2 separate regions of the Homo sapiens genome follow, and region 1 is linked to region 2. The links come from fine-mapping of genetic effects on gene expression. A gene starts in region 2. The other region holds a variant in brackets. All regions are shown on one strand. Distances are from middle to middle. Region 1 overlaps ACSL1 (acyl-CoA synthetase long chain family member 1). Region 2 holds the start of MIR3945HG (MIR3945 host gene).

Region 1 (11,893 bases), 80 kb after region 2:
CTTAATCATCCAGCCATGATTAGGTTTTTTACCCTAGAGATTTTTGATGCAATAATTTTGAAATATTTGCATATTGTTTATATGTAGGCTTTTTTTTTTTTTTTTTTTTTTTTGAGATGGAGTCTCGCCTGTCACCCAGGCTGGAGTGCGGTGGGGTGATCTCAGTGCACTGCAGACTCCGCCTCCTGGGTTCAAGCAATTCTGCCTCAGCCTCCTGAGTAGCTGGGATTACAGTTTCACGCCACCATGCCTGGCTAATTTTTTATTTTCAGTAGAGACGGGGTTTTACCATGTTGGCCAGGCTGGCCTCGAACTCCCTCAAGTGATCTGCCTGCCTCGGCCTCCCAAAGTGCTGGGATTATAGGCGTGAACCACCGTGCCTGGCCTGTATGTAGGCTTTTAAAAACCTCCTCCTGAGTTTGAATTGTTTCCTAAGAATACGTTCTCAAGAATGGAACTGTAGAACTTAAGGATAAGAGCTTGCTCTTATTTTTTATAGGTCTCTCAAAAGTTGCTGTTTCTGTGTTTATACCAAATAAACAAGTTTTGGCTGCTTTATAAATAAAACAAATCCATCTCTCTATCATTTTTAAAATTGTATAAAACTAAAATAGAAAAAAATGTATAAATAGCCCTGCCATATAATTGTCTGTGACCTGCAGCCATTGGGATAAGATTAATTTTCTTTGCAGAAGGAACCCTGCGGTCAGTTCTCTTAATTCTGATTTCTTGTGAATAAAACCTTGTGTTTTACCAAAAAATCTATCAATAAAGGAATACCTGCATGTTCCCTCTCCGTTTCTGTGTGCAGCATTGCTTGCTGGCTGAGATACAAGCCTGCCGTCTGGTCAGCTTTGTTTCTGGAGTTGGGGCCCAATGCTGCTTCTGACTTTTTCCTCTCCATTTTAGGTTGCAGAATTGTCGGAGTGCATAGGCTCAGCACTGATCCAGAAGGGCTTCAAGACTGCCCCAGATCAGTTCATTGGCATCTTTGCTCAAAATAGACCTGAGGTATGAACCAGTAGGTACTTGCTATGCATGATTTTGAGAATTCTCAGATATAAGAGCCTAACTTCTGCTAGAGACCAGATTTTGTAGTCTGATTTCTACTAAAAGTATAGCTTTACGTTACACCTTAGAAAGTTACACATATGAAAACCTCAACCAGGGCCGCTGGGCACAGTGGCTCACGCCTGTAATCCCAGCACTTTGTGAGGCCAAGGCGGGTGGGTCACCAGAGGTCGGGAGTTCCAGACCAGCCTGACCAACATGGAGAAACCCCATCTCTACTAAAAATACAAAATTAGCCAGGCCTGGTGGCACACATCTGTAATCCCAGCTACTCGGGAGGCTGAGGCAGGAGAATCGCTTGAATCCGGGAGGCAGAGGTTGCGGTGAGCCAAGATTGTGCCATTGCACTCCAGCCTGGGCAACAAGAGCGAAACTCCGTCTCAAAAAAAAAAAAAAAGAAAGGAAAACCTGAACCAGGGCCTTTTAATCGCCTTTAAGAGAAAAAAGAAATCACTTTTTTGGGGGGATTATTTTAGTTTTTTTAAACCAGGTTCCCAAATAAAATCCTTAGAACAGATAACTAACAAAGGAGTCTTTTTACTTTAAGAGTCACCTCTGTGGTTAGAAAAATGGCATTAATAAGTTATAGAGAGACTCAGATACATTTTTGTCAATAGCAGGTTCCTTTTTTTCCTTTCTGAAAGGTATGAGGCTTTCCCTCTGGTTGGTTTCTAGAGTTTAAAATACCATGGGTGATGGGGACAGTACTCACTGCTAGCCAGCCTTCCTTTGGGCAGTCTGTCATTGGTGGTCTAAGCCCAGCACGGTTTCTGTAAACCAGTGTGTAAAAGTGTGTTAGTCCATTTTCATGCTGCTGATAAAGACATACCTGAGACTGGGAACAAAAAGAGGTTTAATTGGACTTGCAGTTTCACATGGCTGGGGGGGCCTCAGAATCATGGCAGGAGGTGAAAGGCACTTCTTACATGGTGGCGGCAAGAGAAAATGCGGAAGAAGCAAAAGCAGAAACCCCTGATAAACCCATCAGATCTCATGAAACTTACTATCACAAAAATAGCATGGGAAAGACCAGCCCCCATGATTCAATTACCTCCCCCAGGGTCCCTCCCACAACACGTGGGAATTCTGGGAGATACAATTCAAGTTGAGATTTGGGTGGGGACACAGCCAAAACATATCAGAAACTGAGTTTAAATGAGCAGCTCTTTTGGAAGTATTGCTTATGGTATGACTCAATAGATTAGTAGATCTAGCTGGCTTAGAAAAATGGAAGCATCTGGCTTGAAGAAATCGAATTTATTCTTATACCTGCTTGTGTCCAGAAGACATGCTGACTCAATCCCTGTGCTACTGACTTTTTTTTTTTTATATAAATAAAGATGGCTTCTTAGAGTTTTGTGGTCTTTCAAGGGGAAAACAGCATTCTCCACAGCTGGACTGTGACTGGGCTTGTAGAATTTAGTTTTTTTCATCCCAAATGAACACATCAAAATGTTTGTTTTGATGGAATTTTATCATGAATCTAGAACTGCAAAACAAATAAGAAATAGGTTCCTTCCTGTATTTATGAGTTCATTCAACAAATGTTTGCTGAGCACCCACTATATGTCAGACACTGTGTTGGGGTGCCAAAGCACAGTGACTCGGCCTCTCTTCCTGAGGTACCACGTAAGGCAAGACAGACCTAAACACCGGTGCTTTCTCTGTCAAGTGGTAAGTGTGGGCGCAGGGCAGAAGGATTATGGGAGCTCAGTCAAGGAGGGCTCCCTGGAGGTGGCACCTGAGTAGAATCTTGAAGGAAATAGGGGCGGGGAGGCCAAGGGAATGCCCACGTTCACACCTGTGTCTGGGAGTGGAGCATTTTCATGTGGTGGAGTGGCAGGAAAGACAGCCTTCCTCATGCGTCACATGTGCCTAAGGAGCTGGGACCTGATTTCTATGTTGTTGGCTGAAAATTCCTTCTGGGAAAAAACCGAAACTCAGAAGCCTAGTTCCAGGCCAAGTGGATGTGAGTGGGTTGTGCCCCCTTCCCCCGGCTGTGCCTTTTTCTGTCCTGTGTGTCAGAGTTCTGCAGATGATTTCATTAGAAAGGTGCAGCCGGAGGCAGTGGGGTACCCCTGGGTATGGTAGTGAAAGAGTGATCTTTCACCTTTGTCCAGTAGGTAGGGCAGTGGCTATGTGGCCAGTGCCTTCAGACACATCTTACTGCATCTTGCATGTGGCAGTGTGGCCAGTTATTGTCTCACTTCTTTCCTGCACTTTTCTAGAGGGATTTTATCAAAACAGTTTTGCTGCTAGACAAGGTACTTCTTCCCCTATTCCAGGGCATACAGTGCCCTGCTGCCAGAGGGGTCTTCCTTGAGCCCCACAGCCGCTGTTTTGCTGAGAAACTCTCAGTGGCTGCTCCGTGCTCTCCAGCCAGAACCATCTGTGCCAGTCAGATCGCTCTCACTACCCCTGCTTTTGATCCTGCCATCCCCTCTGTTAGCATCTCCCTGCCTCCCTCTGTCTCTGTCTCTCTCTCTCTCTTTCTTTCTCTTTCCAAAGGCAATCTCAGTTACACCCTCCCAGTAGCATCTGTAGCTACCTTGGCCGATGGTGGGCTTTCTTATCTCTGGGTCAGTCCCTGTCTGATAATTATTGCTAATTATCTTTTAACATATTTGCCTCAATTCTTCAGGCGGATTTTAATTTATCTTTCTTTCTCTCTTTCTCTCCTTTCCTTTCCTTCCTTTTTTCTTTTCTTTCTCAATCTCTCCTCTTTCTCTCTCTGTCCTCTCATCTTTCTTTCTCTCTCTCTCTTTCCTTCCTTCCCTCCCTCCCTCCCTCTCTTTGTACATGCATACATACATACATACAGGATCTCACTCTGTCACCCAGGCTGGAGTGCACTGGTGTGATCACAGCTCACTGCAGCCTCAACCTCCTGGGTTCAAGCAATCCTCCCGCCTCAGCCTCTCAAGTAGCTGCGACATGGTGTGTGCCACCATGTCCAGATAACTTTTGTAGAGGCAGGGTTTTGCCATGTTTCCCAGGCTGGTCTTGAACTCCTGGGCTCAACTGATTCCCCCAACCTTGGCCTCCCAAAGTGCTGGGATCACTGGTGTGAGTCAGTGTGCCTGGCCTTAATTTCTTTTTAAGAAGGGGGCATGTGTTTTGTTCTCATTCTGAATCCCTTATAGCACCTGGCACAGAGTAGTAGCTAACACAGATGTTAATTTTGCTGCGTCAAATGTTTTCACTTTGAATCTCTCTTGAGTATTGTTCTCCTTATTGATTACATGATGACATCCTGTTTTCTCTCCCTGACCTTTACTGTTTGTTTAGTGGGTGATTATTGAACAAGGATGCTTTGCTTATTCGATGGTGATCGTTCCACTTTATGATACCCTTGGAAATGAAGCCATCACGTACATAGTCAACAAAGGTACGTCTGTGATCTTTGCCTGGATTATTGGCATAGTTATTGGTTAGGTTCAGTGACTTTACATTTGCTTACATTTGATTTGACAAAGATTTTACATGTAAATATATATCTACCTTTTTATTCAAAGAATGTAGTACTTCAAGTATCCTTGTGCTGGATATGACAGAGTGAATCTTTTAACATCCCAGAGCTTATTCTTCATTGTATCTCTTCATTTACAGCTGAACTCTCTCTGGTTTTTGTTGACAAGCCAGAGAAGGCCAAACTCTTATTAGAGGGTGTAGAAAATAAGTTAATACCAGGCCTTAAAATCATAGTTGTCATGGATGCCTACGGCAGTGAACTGGTGGAACGAGGCCAGAGGTGTGGGGTGGAAGTCACCAGCATGAAGGCGATGGAGGTGAGTGCCCTGCCTCCTTCCCTTCTCTGAAGGCTTTCCCTGGGGCCGTGTTGGCTCACACGTGCTATCCAGTGCTATCTAGTGCTATGGTGCAGTCCCAGCGCTGGCCGGTTGCCTCCGCAACCCATGAAAGAGAGCAGAAACTTCTGTCTCATTGCTGGAAAAAGGATTCTACATGTGTGCCCAGTGTTAACACCTCACACCTTACCCAAGTGCTTTCAGCACTCCAATATTTATTCCAGAGCACTGACAAGCTGTGCCCGGAAATGCCAGAAATGGGAATTACAGCTTCAGGCAGGTGGAACTTTCAGTTTCTGTGTCTCCTTTGGGCTTTAATGCCTTTTACTTACTAATTTGTCTCTAATGCCAAGCCAAGTATAGAAATCAGCCTCATCGTTCTTTTCCCTGGATGGCTCGTGGAGAGTCTTGGTGAATTTCCAACATGCATGTTTGATTTGGTTTGTTTTCATATTGACTCTTAAGAGTCATACCAATCACAAGTTTAAAGGCAGCCATTCCAGGAGAATGAGCGTGGTGGTCCATGCTCAGCTTGGGTGCTTGATGTCAGATGATATAAGAAGTTGATCCCCGTCAGTTGGACTTGGATTAGAGTTCCATCCAAGGAACATGGCCGGAGGAAGATCTTTTCATATACATATCATAACAAGTCATAGGAAAACAGAGTCAGTCCTTCTCTTTCTGAAGGTGTTAGAAATATTTTTCTGAAACTGTTATAGATAGGATTTTAAATTTTTATGTGTAGTTTTCCTCCTCCTACAAAGAATTTGAGGCTATAAGTAAGGATCTGTAGAACCTTTCCTGAGGAACCCAGTAGGCACAGGGAAGCGCGGGTGTTCTAACAGAACCTTCTCTCTTGTGCATGTGTGCGCCCCTGCCCAACTCTCTCTCTCAGTAG[C/T]ATCGAACGTGATTCCGCAAGTGCTGACCCGGGTGCTTCCTTGTTGAATTGGGGTTTTATAGCTTCTTACCTAGTGTTTCCCCACTTCTGTTTTTTTACTTTTAACCCTCTTTTACTATAATGTAATCTCTTTTTCCCTTACCTTCCCACAGATGCAAGAATTTTTCTGGTGTTTTTTGACTGCTGTATGATAAAGAAGTAATGTTGAAATTTAAAAATTATTTAGTTGATTGAAGATTATAATATAAAGTTTATATTAAAATATTAATTTATAGAAGACATTGTTTTACACTTACCTGTTTAATATGATCTGTACTTAGTTTTTAAAAATATTCTGAGCAAAAGGTGAAGAGATCGCCCCACTGCACTGCAGCCTGGGTGACAGAGCGAGACTCCATCTCAAAAAATAATAATAATTGCAGTATTTTTCCTAAGTGATACTGTAAGAGAGATGTAAGGCTGTGAAACTTTTGCGGCAACAGTGCACTAATTTGGATAATGTTTGTTCCCAATAAATTAAGAGCCAAATTGTATGTAACTGGTGCTTTATTTTATTTAACATCAGTTTTTGAAGAATTGGGCATCTCCAGAAGTTATGTAAGAATTTTTAATAGACAAATAGAAATCTGGAGCTAATAAAGGTTATTTTGAAAAAAATGTACAGAATTATTGCTTTAGCTTTTGGCTGACCTCTAATTGGATATATTAGTTCCTGTTCTTAATCGGTGGTCTGTCACTACATCATTTAAAATGTAATTAAGATTGAAAACTTAATGTATGCTGGGCAGAAACTCACTAAGCCCTGAGCACACCCATCTAATTTCCACGTGAATTGAACATGTTCAATGGCGTGTTCAATGGCATGTTCATTCCATATCCTCATTCAAGCTGTTCCATTTGAATAGGAAAAGAATATAAATAGTTCATTTGTTAAAATTAATAGATATTAAAGTGGCCACCAAGACTGCCCTAATGCAGTAAACCGAACCCCATCAGTGGTAGTGACTGGAAGCCTGCCGCTGGGAAATGCTGTCCCCGCGCAATGCTTCTGTCATTCTTAACCTTCAAGTCCATTCAGGAAGGAGTCTTAGAGGGTCTGCTGTGGCCTGTTTTATAATTGGGGGCTCCCAAATCCTATCTCCACTCTACGAGGGGAGATATTTGAGCAGATATTTGAGCCTCTCCAAAATGCCTAGCATTTCAATCGAGCAGAGATTGATTTTTCTTCTTCCCAGATTGCAGATGTCAGTTGTGCAGAATGTGGGGGTGAGGTAGTGCTGTGCTCTGATTTGAGGAACCTACGAAGTATCTGCAGTATCTCGTTATGGTTAAGAACAGGGCTTTATTAAAGGCCCTAATAAGAAGTGGAAGTGGGGACCAGAAATGCATGGTAAAGACTTTGGCTGCTGTTTTTTTAATACATCCTATTTCAAAGACCAGTCCTAATACCGTTTATGTAGTTTTATGTAAGAGAAGAGGTAACTGGAAAATGGCTTCTCAGAACAATGAATAAATATTTTGGTTCTGGTTAATTAAAACTGCCATAGTTTCTTTAATTAGAAAATTATGCTGTTTTCGAGCCAGGTGTGAATGAACCCCACAGTAAAGCCAGCTTTAAGTGACTCGATGTGACCTTATCCTTTACAGTTAGAAAACGTTTCCATTTAAGACTTTTTTTCTCTTCTAATTAAGGACCTGGGAAGAGCCAACAGACGGAAGCCCAAGGTAAGCACACCGTGTCAGACCCTGCTCTGTCCTCTTTGTAGTTTTCAATATCTAGCCTGGTACCTTGTGGCTTATAGTTCTCTTTTCTGTTCTGATTTATACCAGCTTTTTTTTTTTTTAATCTTTAGCCTCCAGCACCTGAAGATCTTGCAGTAATTTGTTTCACAAGTGGAACTACAGGTGAGTTTTGAGATAGAATTGCTTCTACATATGGCAGCCATTGGTCTGGACTCTCCCCTACCTCTTTTGGATGACTTATCAGCTAACAGTAGACGGACCAAAAGCAGAAGAGAAGGAAGCGGTTCAAGTGCTGTCTTCTTGTTGCTCTGTAAGATCTTCTCAGAGTCCAAGAGTGCCGGATAATTCCTCAAACATTTATTGAGGGTGATATTAGATTCACCTGTCTTCCTAGGACAGACTATATCGGTGGCTCCCAGGAAGAAAATTTCTGGTTTTTCTTCTCTTATGACTACGTATATACCCTTTAAAATGTGCCCATATTAATAAAGGTTTTTAAAGATAAGTCAGTGTAAGGATTGCAGGTTGCTTAGGAATTTAGTGTTCAACATTTGGTTTTCACGATATATCTAACAGTAGAGGTGTCTGAAGCCCTAATTATGTGAGGTTTCTGGGCCTCCTTCATTTCTGTCATTCTTTAACTTTGTTCTGCTTCATATGTGCTCCACAGGCAACCCCAAAGGAGCAATGGTCACTCACCGAAACATAGTGAGCGATTGTTCAGCTTTTGTGAAAGCAACAGAGGTAACTTTTTGGGATGTCGTCATCTTTCCTCATTGATTGACATTAGTCCTTGAGAATGAAAGTGCTGAAGGTGGGCACCAGTGTGTTAGGTCCATGTGGCATTTAGAAACGATGTGACATATGGGTAAGGTCAGAACTTTAGGCCCAAGTCCACCTTCTCTCTTTTTTCACTTTGAACCTAATCGCCAACCCTTGCCTTATGATAATTAAGGTGAATTGACAGATGAAGTTCACTGCAACATTTATATAGAGAAACTCTATTTGGATATTGCCCTAGAAACATGTCCAAGAAAGGACAGAGAAGAGATGGACTCTCTTGTGTTTTTATCCAGCGTCCCTGTATTTGGGAAATAATTTATTTTAAATTGGCAATGATATGTTAAAAGTTTTTGAATGATTATTATCTGTTGTGGTCAGTGTGACTTCCATTGCACTAGAAGTAGTAAAGCCTTGCACTTCAGCTAATTTCCCATGCTTTTAAAGTTTACTATCCAGTGTCTTAGTCTATCCAGTCACAGCAGGGCCCCATCTACATTGGGAGTTAGGATGTTGACATACGAATTTAGAAGGGGGTGATGTGATTCAGTCCATAACACCAACAGCCTATTCCAAACTTGCCTTTTAAAAAGGTGCTTATTGAACCATATGCCTTTTCCTTATACTCTTTTTTACATTTAACATAATTGGCTTTTGCAGTCTCTTTGGAAGTATTCTGTAGCTCTGATTTTTGTAGCAGGAGCCTGAGCTTAATGGCTTTGGGGAATGGACATGTTTGGTGGCTGCAGAAAACTGATCTTTGAGGGATCTTGCCACTTACTTTACTTGGCTCACACTTTCCAAATGCCCTTTTTAAAGATGTATACTTTCTAAACAGAGTTCAACATTTAGTACCTTACCAAAGTGAAATTTTAATTTCCTAATTGGCCTTCAAACAAAACTTAAAATGCATTGGTGGCTCATTGAGGCAAATGATTACAGAACTTTGTTTAAAGTCAGTTACAATATCAAATCAATTACAATATCAGTATCTTCTCAGCTTTGTAAGATGTCTAATCATGATAATGGACAATATTTTTGTTCTGAGTCAGAAAGTTGAAAAGTATAGATAGAATGGAGTCCGATTTCTCATTATATTAATATAACAATTTCATCCTGAGAAGTACTACTTGGGATGCCTGTCAGACTTGAATAAAATCCAGCTGAGATTATAGCATGCTCAGCCCACATCCAGTGCTTCTGGGGCTGCTGTGTTTGCTCAGGATTGATGCTTTCATCCATTGTCACATTATTATTAAGGGTGACCCAGCTTTAGGAAAGGAAGGGGCATGGCTCAGAACTTGGTATATCATCCCCTAGGTAACGACAATGCCCTCATTTCTTAGTTGGTATGACAGCAGCTGCTCTTGCACACCCCCTGTTTTGGCCAGAATTCTTTATGTTAATAACATGAATATTCTATACAAACCCTCACTGTGCCTGCCCTAAGTAAGGCCCATTCTGAGGGAAACCAGATGTCCAAACTTAATCTGTCTGTGGACCCATCATGATCAGCATTTTATAGGAGAGCAAATTCCTGGGTGCCAGATCTGAGGTTGCATTAAACAAATTGTGATATGTAAAGTAGGGCTTTAAGGTATTAAAAATATTGATCAAACTCAAAATACTCTAAGGACCTTGGAAATCCACCTTCTTTTATCTTCTTTCCTCCTTTCCCTTAACAACATAAAATGCAATTTTATGTTGAAATGGGTCCTGTATTTCTTAAGGTAAAATTGAACTTGCTGGGTACTAGGATACTGTAGTGATGAAATACTAACTGATTAGAGCATATAATCCCTTAACCTTCCAATTTGAGCAAAATTTTCCTTGTTTTGATTAAAGCCCTGAAGTGGATTTACTTTGTCATGGGGAGTGACTTCCACTTTGTTTGAATAATTAAAGTATTGCTTTTTTTTTTGATTCAGAGTCTCACTCTGTTGCCCAGGCTGGAGTGCAGTGGTGCAATCTCGGCTTACTGCAGCCTCCGCCTCCCTGATTCAAGCAATTCTGCTGCCTCAGCCTCCTGAGTAGCTGGAATTACAGGCATGTGCCACCATGTCTGGCTAATTTTTGTATTTTTAGTAGGGATGGGGTTTTACCATGTTGGCCAGGCTGGTCTTGAACTCCTGACCTCAAGTGATCTGCCTGCCTTGGCCTCCCAAAGTGCTGGGATTACAGGCGTGAGCCACCATGCCCCTTGTTTTTCATTTTATTCTTTGGTGAGAAGAAATTGCAGACCATAAGCAAAAGCCGTTTCTCCTCAGTGTTGAGGTACTATGTGCTCAGAAATAAAATGGAAGTTTACTCGGAGTCTTTTTTTTTTAATTTTATTATTATTATACTTTAAGTTTTAGGGTGCATGTGCACAACGTGCAGGTGTGTTACATATGTGTACATGTGCCATGCTGGTGTGCTGCACCCATAAACTTGTCATTTAGCATTAGGTATATCTCCTAATGCTATCCCTCCCCCCTCCCCCTACCCCACAACCGTCCCTGGTGTGCGATGTTCCCCTTCACTGGGAGTCTTAATGCTTTTCTGCCTTGCTGGTGTCTTTGCTTACAGAATACAGTCAATCCTTGCCCAGATGATACTTTGATATCTTTCTTGCCTCTCGCCCATATGTTTGAGAGAGTTGTAGAGGTAGGCATTTAATTTTGTTTTCCTTGCTTGTTTGTGTATGTTCTGCTAAGTTGTTGTGTTTTACAGAAAGCACTTCCCTTGAGTGCCAGTGACACACACATTTCATATTTACCACTTGCTCACATTTATGAACAGTTATTGAAGGTAAGTGTGGCGTGCGGACTGTCATCCCTATAGAGAATTCTCTGCTCAGCCCCGTTTTAGAAATGGTGCAGATTATTTGAAAGAATATAAATTCTTTTTCTGAGTATGAACAGGATACTGGAATTTAATCACTCATTTTAAAATTAGGAGTTCAGACTTTTGAAGGATACTAATGTGGACATGAGTCCAGAAAAACCAACTATAAAGGTAAAGTCATTATTAATTCAGTTCTACAAAGCCCAGCGAGGCTTCCGTTCTGTGAGAAGTCTCTATTTTTGATTGTGCTTGTTCCTAATGCACAAGTTGGCTTGCGACTAATTTTTTCAGCAATATTCTAAGTGCCCTTGGAGAAAGAGGATGATCCTTGAGTTGACCTTTGCCTAGGCTCCCTGTAATCAACTGTGTGACTAATTTTAAAACTGACCAAGAACCACCTTTTTTCCTTCTTTGACAATTTTGGATTTTATGCTGTAGGAAAAAACAATGAGCACCATTCATTCATTTAGTGAGTAGTTACTGAGCTCTAGCTGTGTGCCCTCTGCTGTGTTGGAGACAGAGGTGACTATCAGCCGATGCTTTGGATGACAGCTGCCCTGTCGGATTTGCTCATCCCAAAGGATCGAAGGCGATTAGATCCCATCTGCCATCTGTTCCTTCTACTTCCTGCACACCTCAGAGTCTTCTGGGTTTATAAAGCAATCTCACATGAGTTGCTGTACCTAACGAGTTTTAGAGGTGTGCCTAGAAGGCAGGCCACGCTGAACAAAAGCTTTCTGAGCTGTAATTGTTAAACAGTGAACCATGG
Region 2 (11,893 bases):
TTCTTTTTCCAGAAAAAGTTCTGGAACTGGATGTGGTAATGGTTGAACCACATTGTGAAGAAACACTGCCACTGAATTTACACTTGAAAGTGGCTAAAATGGTAACTTTTATGTTAGTATATTTTACCACAATAGAAAATGCGTAGAAAAAAACCGTGTGAGTGATTTTTTTAAAAACACATGCTTTGAGATATAGGACAATGTGTAATGAGATATTAAGATGTAATCTCAGAGTATTCATTGATTCATTGATTCATTGAAAAAAGATAATTCTATTGAGCCCCTACTTGTGCCAGTTACTCTTCTGGTTCTGGGGACAGAGCTTGGTCAACAAGACAAACAGCCCCTTGCTCTAGTGGAGGGTGTAACGCACACTGGGGTTATAAGAAGATTCTTTCTTTTTTGCCCCTTTATATATTTTCCAAATCTTTCCAATGGGCATTGTATTTTTATGTATGGGGAAAATATAAATGGAAGAAGGGAGGCAATTATGAAATCAATGTTGGCCTGAGATGATTGTTAATTTTCCTCTTCCTCCTGGGCTTATGCCGTGAGCACACACCTCATCAATACAGAGAGGACCAGGTCCGATGATGATGAGGGAGGGATGCAGGAGGATCGGAACTTACGGAGCAAGAGAGTGGCGCCTGCTCAGTCCGCCATCCTGCTGTCTCCCGACTATGCTTTGGGCTTTCTGGCTTCCAGAGGCATCCGGACTCTAGTGATCTGTCAGTCCCCCTCACTCCACCCAGTGGGTGTTTACATCGGTGTTCAAAAGATCCAGAGCTTCTCTTTTTTTGGTGCTAGGATTTTTATTCTTTTAACAATAGTCCTGCAATAGCTCTTGGATAATTGTCTTGACCCCTCCTCTGCTTATACCAGGCCATAACCCTCCTAGAGATTCGAAAAGCTGTCTGAAAATATCAGGCAGAGGTTAATAAATGAAAGGGCTGGGCACCTTTCCTCCAAGAAATCGTTGCTAATTTGGGGCTCCTCTTGCAACATAGCAAAACCGAGAATTTCAGGGCTTTGCAATGCAAAAAGTCCCCAGTGGCCTCATTTCTACATTTCCTCTCCATACCCAACTAATTGACCCTGAGTTTTTGTTCATTCTTGTCTGATCTTGGCTGATATTAGGAGAGGCAGTCTAACCCAGATGAATGAAACTCTGCTTCCTTGATCATGGCTGCAAAGGGACACCGCCCCACGCCCCACCTCCTCTGTGCGGAGATAGGAGGAATCCCTCAGACCCCACAGCTCTCTCTCATCTCTGGCAGCCTGCGCCCCAGGAGTATGAGATGAAAGAGATCCACACGATGGTCCCTGGCATCTTTGGCTACTGTTATTCTTCTATATCCCTTGGCCTAGGGATCTATTTTAGGCAGTAACTTCCACTCCCTCTCTGTCAGAAACCTCTCTCATCATTGAGCTAGATTTTGGAAGTGTAGGAACATCTGGTTTTTGGACTGTGAGTCCCCTCAAGGCTGATAGGATGTTTAATTTTAGCTAATGAATGGATGTTTAATTTATGAGTATATGATGAATAAATAAAACCAGCTCTGATGGTTTCATTTTAATCTCATTCCAAGACAAATCTTACTTTCTATATTTTCCCCCACAAAAACGGATTTTTCTTCTCCATTTCAATTCTTTTCATCTCCCTCTCCCCAAAATCTCCAATTATCAGCTCTTCCATGGAAAATTTCTTCTCTACTCTCTGTTCTGACTTGTTCATGATCTAGTAGTTTTCTCTAAGGAAGGCTATGTAGTTTGGAGGTTATAAAGCTCAGGCTTCCTGAGTTCAAGTCCCAATTCCACCATTTGATGGTTGTAACCTCTGTGCGTCTCAGTGTCCCCATTTGTAAACTGGTGCTAGTCATAGACACCAGGTTGTGGGGTTACCGAAGGAGGGGTAATGAAGGTAAAAAAAGAGCATCTATCATAGAACCTGGCAACTGATGAAAGATTCAATAATGTTGACTGTTAGTAACATTTCAGTAACATTTTACTTAAATAGATAGAGGTTATGATATTATCTAGGTAGGTAGCCCTTTCTTAATGGCCTCAGTCTAACCCAACACTTTATCATATGGGGAGAAAATGTATAATGGAACTGTGAGGAAAAATCTGGAAGAATGGGTTGCTGGTGCCAGAGAGGAGGTGACTGGAAAGTGTAACAGCCTCTCTTGCCCTGCCCTGAAGCCACTTCCACGTGCCTCAGAGCCTTTGAGCCTCCAGCAACTCTGCCATCTGCTCCAGGTGTGAACTTTGCACACAGTGAGCTCACTGAGGTCTGGCCTACTGATCAGCTGTCTTATTCCCCCCTTTCAAAAAAAGGAGCTGCACCGTCATGAGTACAAACAACTTGCCTGGGTCTACAACCCCAAGGTGACAATGTGGAGTTGTGATCCCAGGTCTTCAGAGGACCAGCTGGGACCTTTGGGACCCCAAGGTGACGATGTGGAGTTGTGATCCCAGGTCTTCAGAGGACCAGCTGGGACCTTTGGGACCCCGAGGTGACGATGTGGAGTTGTGATCCCAGGTCTTCAGAGGACCAGCTGGGACCTTTGGGACCCCGAGGTGACGATGTGGAGTTGTGATCCCGGGTCTTCAGAGGACCAGCTGGGACCTTTGGGACCCCGAGGTGACGATGTGGAGTTGTGATCCCGGGTCTTCAGAGGACCAGCTGGGACCTTTGGGACCCCGAGGTGACGATGTGGAGTTGTGATCCCGGGTCTTCAGAGGACCAGCTGGGACCTTTGGGACCCCGAGGTGACGATGTGGAGTTGTGATCCCGGGTCTTCAGAGGATCAGCTGGGACCTTTGGGACCCCGAGGTGACGATGTGGAGTTGTGATCCCGGGTCTTCAGAGGACCAGCTGGGACCTTTGGGACCCCGAGGTGACGATGTGGAGTTGTGATCCCGGGTCTTCAGAGGACCAGCTGGGACCTTTGGGACCCCGAGGTGACGATGTGGAGTTGTGATCCCGGGTCTTCAGAGGACCAGCTGGGACCTTTGGGACCCCGAGGTGACGATGTGGAGTTGTGATCCCGGGTCTTCAGAGGACCAGCTGGGACCTTTGGGAGATGCAGAGCTGCTGCGGCGCTCTTCACATGCACTTGATCTGCTGTGTCCACTAAATCTACCCCACTTCTAACACCCCAGTCCTGGACTCCGTGGGTGCAAAACGTGAGTCTCTGCACCCCTCTTCACATCCCTGGGGGGCTTGAGAATAAGCCAGCAGCCCTGAGCTGGGCTCCTTGGCCTGGCCATGACTGCCAATGAGGGGCCTTGAGTCTGTGTCCTCAGCCCCCAGCCTGTCCCCATTTTGGGGACTTGAACAGACCCACAGTGTCAGTTCCTCCCATAAAAAGATTTCAGGGGACAGCAGCACTTCCTCTTGGCCCCCAGGCACTTGAAGGCCGCCTGCACCCCCCATTCCTAGGCCTTGCCAGCCTGAGGGCAAGCTCCTTACATGACCTGCAGCTTCAGAAACTAGGCCCTCCTCCTTACTTCCCATCACCCATTTTGTCAAAGAACCTAGAATATTTTGTTATCCGAGAAGCCTGGCTTTCGACAAACCGTAGGATTGCTAGTATCTCTTTATGGAGTGGACTTGAACTGTTTATTGCAACTGTGACATGTGGCAAATCATTTTACTGTTCTGAGGCTTTACTTCCTTCTAGTTAGAATGAGCATTAGGCCGGGCATGGTGGCTCACGCTTGTAATCCCAGCACTTTGGGAGGCCAAGGCAGGTGAATCACGAGGTCAGGAGTTCAAGACCAGACTGGCCAAGATGGTGAAACCCCGTCTCTACTAAAAATTCAAAAATTAGCTGGATGTGGTGGCGGGCACCTGTAATCCCAGCTACTCGGGAGGCTGAGGCAGAGAATTGCTTGAACCCGGGAGGCAGAGGTTGCAGTGAGACAAGATCGTGCCACTGCACTCCAGCCTGGGTGACAGAGCAAGACTCCATCTCAAAAAAAAAAGAAAAAAAAAAGAGCATTAAATATATGACATCTTTAAAACTGTGTGGATTTAGAACTGAGGTATCTTCTTTGTTACCTGAGGAGGGAAACATGCTTATGGGGCTAATGTCATTTTAATTTTGGGGTAGGTCTGTCTGTCTTCTGTGGGGTGGGGGAGAGTGAAAATTTTCTCTGCTGTAGGTGAAGACCTCTAGGCTTTATTTTCAACTCATATGCCTCATGCTATTGTTCGAGAATCATCTTTTCTATTCATATAAGCTATATCATACTGATCTTTTTTTTAACCTTATTTATTATTTTTTATTTTTGAGATGGAGTCTCCCCCTGTCACCCAGGCTGGAGTATAGTGGTGCAATCTCAGTTCACTGCAACCTCTGCCTCCAGGGTTCAAGTGATTCCCCTGCCTCAGCCTCCAGAGTAGCTGGGATTACAGGCGCGCACCACCACACCTGGATAATTTTTGTATTTTTAGTAGAGACGGGGTTTCACCATGTTGTCCAGGCTGGTCTCGAACTCGTGACCTCGGGTGATCCGCCCGACTCAGCCTCCCAAAGTGCTGGGATTACAGACATGAGCCACTGCACTCAGCCCCCCTTTTTTTTTTTAACTTTAAAATCCACTTGTGACACTTTTGTAAAATACCATCAACCTTGTGTATTAAGCTACTGTTGTGACAGCCATGATAATTTCCCTCTGAAAATGGTTTGGAGACATGAAATAATAAAAATAACCTTTAAAATGCATTATCACTCTGATTCTATTAGGAAAAACGGAAGTCACTGGATTTAAACTATGTCAATGCCCTGTACTTTCTGTCTGTCAGTAGGTGCTGTAACTGTTGGCTAAATGATTATTTTTCATGCTTCCTTTCTCATTTCTGCTTTTTTAGATATTTAAAATGTCCTTGTTTCTTGGTGAGCAGAATTATTTCCTACCTCATGACCATGAGTCATGACCTTATACTCTTCTTTCAGTACAGGAGAAAGCTTCATTAATTTACTAATGCATTCATTCCACAAGTAAACTTCTGCAATCCTCGTTTATTCATATACTTTGACAAAAACAAAGAGACCCACAAGCTTTTTGAGTCTTCACAACCCAAAACATGTATTTGAAACTGAAAATTCAATCATTCCATGTTTATAGGCATATTGCTTGATAGAAACATATAAATCATTACCTGAATTTTTTTTTTTTTTTTTTTTTTTTGAGACGGAGTCTCACTCTGTCACCCAGGCTGGAGTGCAGTGGTGCAGTCTCAGCTCACTACAACCTCTGCCTCCCGGGTTCAAGCTATTCTCCTGCCTCAGTCTCCTGAGTAGCTGGGATTACAGGCGCCCACCACCACACCCGGCTAATTTTTTTTTTTTAATTTTTAATCGAGACGGAGTTTTACCATGTTGGCCACGCTGGTCTCGAACTCCTGACCTCTGGTGATCCACCCGCCTTGGCCTCCCAAAGTGCTGGGATTACAGGCATGAGCCACCGCGCCCAGCCTGGATTTTTTTTAATCCAACCCAGTTCCATATTTTCCTCTAGAGAGACTGACTCACCAAGCCTATCTCCTTTTCCTGGAAACACAATCAAATTAACTTTCCAGTCACCGCTGTGTCTAGGTGTGGCCATATGAGTAGTTCTCACCAGTGGAATGTAGTGAAAACGAGATGCTGTCTCTTAGGGACTAAGGAAGCTATCTTTCCTCTTCCGACATTTGCTGACTGGTCGATGCTAGATGATCTTGAGACCCTGTGCTGAGGACTGGAGAACTACAGGAAAGGAGCAGTATCTCTGAATTATCGTGTGGAAGGTCACTTGTCTAGCCCCTGATGACTGTGAGGTAAGTCGTTAGGGATCTGGGGTTGTCTGATACAGCAGTTAGCAGGTCCTGACTGACATATCCCTCTTATTCTTTAAGTTGAACAAATTAGAGACTGGAGTGTTTTGGGTAGCCTTGCTATATGGCATGGTCGAAGACGGTGCTTCGCAGGTGATTTACAACCCTCCTACCATTTACTCTGTCTTCATTTCAAGCAGTATAACCTATAATTTCCTAATCTTCAGCAGAATAGGAAAAGGGGCTCAAAGCCACAAACACACACGCTTCCTTTCAATGTACCTTTGTTGCTCAGCCACAGTGGCGAGTTCACGCGCCTGGCAAGACCTCTCCCTATTTGGGCATTTTGTGAATACAGAAGAATGGGCGCCCTGGTGTGACCCAACATCAGAATCCAAAACATGGCATCTTTACCTAGCCCTTTTCGCTTCTTTTAGATCATTCAATAAACATAATCTGTTTTCTTTCAAAATAACATGGTTATCTAATTCCCTTCATTAGCAGCTAGCAAAAGAGGCCCTGGGCTTCCCGTGAGCTAATTCACTGGGTCCCTGAGGTCGTTGCGGGCTTTCCCTCTCACTCTTGCAACAGACACAATCTCACTTCTTTAATGTAAAGTATGGTTTTTCTGTCGAAATGTGCTTCCTGTTTTCTTTATCGTAACTTACAGGCATGATTGCCTGGGTCTTCTCTCATTATTCCCAGTCCACTGCCTCTTCATATTTAGTGGTACTTCTGTCTTACTGGTCCCTGGAAATTTATCTCAGATCATTTCCTTTTGGGTCTATCTCTTCTTTAAGAGAAATAATTTTAAAGTCAAAGCTCCATAATACAGAGATCTGTTCTCTTTCCCACCATCTGTTTTCTGAACCTCCCCTCCTGGTTCAAGCCTCTGTAGGATAATTTGAACACAAACCATTGACTGCCAACTGAAATCGAACAAGATAATGTCCAATTTGCCCTTTTTTCTCTCTGATTTGTCCCAATGTTTACATTTCTCCATCAATCAATGAACAAATCACTTTGGTACAGTGTGCCAGTAGCTTTGAGAGGAGCACAGAAGCAATACAAGCAAGCTCACCAGTAACTTATGAGGCTCGCTTACCCAAAGCCATTCAAGAATAAGACAGTAGATAACACCAGCCACCTGGTGTATATAGAAAGTGCATTCAGAGGGCCGGGCACGGTGGCTCACGCCTGTAATCCCAGCACTTTGGGAGGCCGAGGCGGGCAGATCACGAGGTCAGGAGATCGAGACCATCCTGGCTAACACGGTGAAACCCCGTCTCTACTAAAAATGCAAAAAATTAGCTGGGCGTGGTGGTGGGCGCCTGTAGTCCCAGCTACTCGGGAGGCTGAGGCAGGAGAATGGCATGAACCCGGGAGGCGGAGCTTGCAGTGAGCCGAGATCGCGCCACTGCACTCCAGGCTGGGCGACAGAGCGAGACTCTGTCTCAAAAAAAAAAAAAAGAAAAAAGAAAGTGCATTCAGAATTGGGGAGGGGAGAGATCAATGTGTGTTAGAGCCAAGGAAACATTTAGTAAAGATGGAATTTAGCCCTTAAGGACTGTCAGGCCAGAGCAATAGGAAGTACAAACATTTCATATGTAGAGAATAACACGAACAAGGCACAAGAGCAGAAATATGAGTAACAGCCTCAGTGGGTCCTATTCGTTATGCACCTATCATGTCCCTTGCACTATGCCGGGCCCTTTGCACTCATTATATACGATGCTCACAGCAATCCTGAGATTGTGAGGCGGGTATTTTACAAATACAAGAAGTCAGTTTTAGAGAAGTACTAAATGGCAGACTCAGGATTCATGTCTGCACTTCATTCACTGCGTAGGAAGGTGAGGGTGGTTAAGGAGGTGCCACTCTGGGAGCAGAAGGCAGTCACTGGAGCAGATCAGTGGAGCTACGTTACGGAGATCCGGGATGGTCCGTGAGGATGCTGGGCCTCACCTGGTAAGCAACAGGGACTGCTGTAGAAGCTTTAGCACAGAAATAGGATGACAAACTTTAGTCAGACAAAATCTGAGTTCAAGGCCGTGTTCTGTGTTAGCTGTGTGACTGGGAACCACCGTTAAACCTGCTGAGATTGTTTCCTCCTCTATAAAATGTGTTCAACAGCAATATCAATGTATAACATTGAAAGGCTTAAATGAGATTTTACTAAAGCACCTGAGATATAGTTAGCATTTACTATATGATAGAGGTTGTTGCTGTTACTACTGCTACTACCACCACCACTGCTACCACAACAGCACTTAAGGAAGGATGATAATCTGGAGAAAAACAGCTAACAGATATTTCGTGAAGACATGAAATGAGATGGCATAGATAGATAGATAGATAGATAGATAGATAGATAGAGTTATATGCCATTTGGTTATATATACATAATCAAAACTTGACTCTGGGAGTATAGATGAATAAAGGTGAATTAGAATCTAGTATAAAGAGAGAAGATCGGAGAATGAGGATTGACACATCTGGGGCACCCACAGTTGGGGAGCGGGACACGGGAGAGAGTCAGTGACAGACACAAGGAAAATGCAGAGGAAGAGGTAAGATGGTCACGTAGACCACAGCAGTCAGGTAACAGAAGAGGTTCCTCAAAAGGCTAGGGAGGTCTACTGTGCCCAGGGCTGCTGTGGGGAGAAAAGATTGAGGACTAGGAAAAGGCTTGTGCAGTTGGGGCAGTGACAACATGGAACACAGACTGGGAGGAACCAGGTGGGAATAAAAGACACTGGCCACAGCCACAGGCACTGCTCATTCATCTGAGGTGTAAGTATAGAGAGAGAACTCGGCTGTGGCTTGGAAGTAACAGCAAGACAAAGAAGGAGGTTATTTTTAGTTCTTGGAGAGGCCAATACCGCTGGTAATCATGAGCGAGCTTCAGTTCATCTCTACCCCTTACTATGGTGCAACTCCTCATGGACTGGTTCCTGAGCCTGCACCCTCTTAGGGTGCAGGTTAGTCCTGCACTTAGTCTGGCTTCTGTTAACTTGTTTTCTCTTTCAGGTCTCACTGTTGCTAACCCCACTCATCAACTTGATCTGTTTGCCCCCAATCCCACCATTTTGCATGACATTATGGATCCTCTGATCTTTAACAAATCCATCCAAGATTGTCTGTTTCTTCTTCTAAGGTGTCACCAGGAATGAAGATTCTTTCACCTAATTTATTTTTTTCTGGTTTCACACGTGTCTGAAAAAATAATAGCAATTATTATTATTATCATTGTAGGATTCATTTCACTCCTCTCAAACACATTCAAAAAGTCTCTTCATCTCTTCCATCATGGTGATGCTCAACTGTTACCCAACTATCCAACTGTATCTTGGAGTTTTGTAATTCCATCATGAGTTGTACTCAACTGTTATCCAACATATCTTGGAGCATGCACCAGGATGCTCCCTGACACAGCTCACTTTGCAAGTAATTCTTAGACACACACTTTCTCCACCAGGCCTGTCTAGTTGAAGTTCTCTATATCCCTGCCCCCCTCCCCACCCTGGTTAAGCATAGGACTTCCATGGTTACATCCCATTTATTCCTTTCCCAAACATGCTTAATGCATTTCATCTCCAGTTACAAACATCGTCTGCTAATGAACAATGTAGATAGTTACCATGTTGTATAAATAGTTACTTATTTCCCTTCGTTGTTGGTTTTATCCAATAAACTAGCCCGATCAGCTTCATTTTATATCACCTTATCTCATACAGATGAGAAACTGTATGTATTTCAGCCTGTCTAAACTGGAGGTAACGCTAGACTGCAGTATCCCTGCACAGTGTCGTATTAGAAATGGCACCCTATAAATTTTTTATGAGTTAATAATGATTGTGATCCCATTCCTATTTTCTACAAGTTCTTCTGTTATGGTGGCAATTAAATAGCCTCACCTTCCTTTCACTTTCTGCAAACCTGCTGCAAGTCATCATTAACTTTCTTAATTGGTAGCGGCTCTGAATTCCAGTCTTTCAGAGTTCCCGTAAACAGCATCTTTCTTAATACTTATGTCATAATGTTTTTCTCCTTTCCTTGCATTTCATTCTGCCTTTGGGCAGGAACAGCATCATTTCCTGCTCTTCTGGGGTTTCAACACTGACTGCAAAGCACCCTTGCTCATCTCACTGGGAGATTCTGCAGCCAAGCAGAGATTTGCATAAAGCCCATCCACCCTTCACCAGCACAGGATACGCAGACTTAACTGCAGGGACTCTTGGTGACTAGTCTCTGTGGTGCACACTCTCCACCCTACCACCAAAAAGGTCCCCAGTACCCTAAAAGGAACTATGTACTCAAATATCACCTCAAATAAGATGAGGTCTTTCTGAGAGAAAAGAGATGTTGATGCACGTGACGGGGAGGGCATAGGAGAGGGTTGATATAAAATGCAATTACAGCCTCTTATGCTTTCCAAAGTGGGGGATGATTCAATGATTCCTGACTGGTCCACAGCCATATATCAATTGAGGTTATAATACTAATTTGAATTGCAAATCTCTGAAAAGAAGGGGACAAGCTAAGGAGATAAAATTTAACAGGGTGAGTCCTGAATTTAGATTTAAACAAACTCCACAAGTATAAGAAGGCAGAGGCTGGCAACAGTACTTGCTGTCATGTTTAGTCGGCCACTGGTCAGTCTGAGACAGCAGTGGGTGTGATCGTGTAGCAGCTATGGAAAGCTTATGCTGCATTTAATAATAATAGTCATACTTTAAAGCATGTTTCAGTTATGAATTCATTCTGACCAGAAAAGTAACTTGCACTAGCTTAACAGTCAAATAGCAAGAAGCATAGAGAAGTGGCCGCTTGCTGTGCTTCAGCAGCTCAACAGTGTCTCTATTCTCTTAGCCTCTTCCTCCTGCTTGCCACCTCTCAGTCACAAGACGGCTGCTGCGACTCAGGCTCATGTCCCAATTCAAGGCAGCAAGAAGGCCATGGAGCGGCACCTGCCAGGTATGTCCCTTTCCCAGGCATCCCCAGCAGATTTCTCACTGTCTGAAACTGCATCCCACGGCGTTCTTAGGTGCGAGGCTGGTCTGGAGAGTCAATGCTTGGGTTTTCCAATACCTGCATGGGACATGGGCAAGATGGAAGGGAGTTGGGTTTAGGAAACCAGTAGTGCCAGCCCTTTACTCGTATCATATCTGATCCCCACAGCAACCCTGAGGAGTAGCTATTTATCATCCTTATTGAGCAAATGAAGAAAATCAGAACCAGCAACATCAAGAAAAAATGAGGAAAGACATACATTAGTAAATAATAAAGCCAGGGTTCCAATTCAGATCAGGTTGAATCCAAAATTCCTCTCCCTGCCATTATAACGCATCACAGTGTTCAGGTCATGTGGGTCTGGGAAGGATGAATCATATTCAACTATCCCACCACGTTTTTGGCCATTTTTTAAAAACTAAAGTATAACACACATCTTGTTATGTTAACACTGACATCTTGAGAATATTAAATCTTCCAATCCATGAACATAGACTGTTTTTACATTTATTTGGTTTCTTCTTTGATTTATTTCAACAAAGCTTTGTAGTTTTCACAGTATAAGTTTTGTACATCTTTGTTAAATTTACTTCTAAGTATTTTAGAATTTTTATCTTAAGTGAAATTACTTTCTTAATTTCATTTTTGGTTTGCTCATTGCTACTGTATACAATACAATTAATATTTGTACATTGCTCTTAATCCTGTAACCTTGCCGGACCTTATTCATTTTAAGTTTGTTCTTTGAATATGTGAAACATTAAAAAGATTTTAAAAGCCAGAACTATACACAAAGGTATTGTCCTTGTAATTTTATATCTGATTGGAAGAATTCTCCACAGACTAGCTTCTGGCGATGTACTTTTCAAACCTTGTTTTTCTCCACTACCCATATATTTTCATGCGAATTCTGGGTACTAGGAGATACAGTCATACCACAGTATGACCTCTGGTCCTGGACTTTAGTGTCACAATGCTGTTTGAGTTAGTCAGTAAGCCATAGGAGTATTCCTGGAAGTCATTTCTACACTGGGGTGCCCAGTAATAACTTAACCA

The links. PIP is the estimated chance that this variant, and not a neighbour inherited with it, causes the effect.
Region 1: its variant is the best candidate, but not a certain one, in a credible set for the expression of MIR3945HG in whole blood (INTERVAL, PIP 0.50).

The regions. Positions count from the first base shown.
Region 1 is chr4:184,769,450-184,781,342 of GRCh38, reverse strand. ACSL1 (acyl-CoA synthetase long chain family member 1) reads left to right here. Exons shown (of 21, transcript NM_001995.5): 5 at 910-1,011; 6 at 4,360-4,459; 7 at 4,681-4,859; 8 at 7,468-7,500; 9 at 7,629-7,680; 10 at 8,189-8,262; 11 at 10,867-10,944. Among named protein-coding and RNA genes, the nearest start is that of CENPU, 41 kb to the right of the region's middle. The variant C/T (reference allele first, on the strand shown) is at 5,776.
Region 2 is chr4:184,849,403-184,861,295 of GRCh38, reverse strand. MIR3945HG (MIR3945 host gene) reads left to right here and starts at 5,644. Exons shown (of 3, transcript NR_132989.1): 1 at 5,644-5,827; 2 at 10,697-10,801. MIR3945 (microRNA 3945) reads left to right here and starts at 10,186; the gene lies at 10,186-10,283. RefSeq lists an enhancer at 10,667-10,736 and a silencer at 11,805-11,874.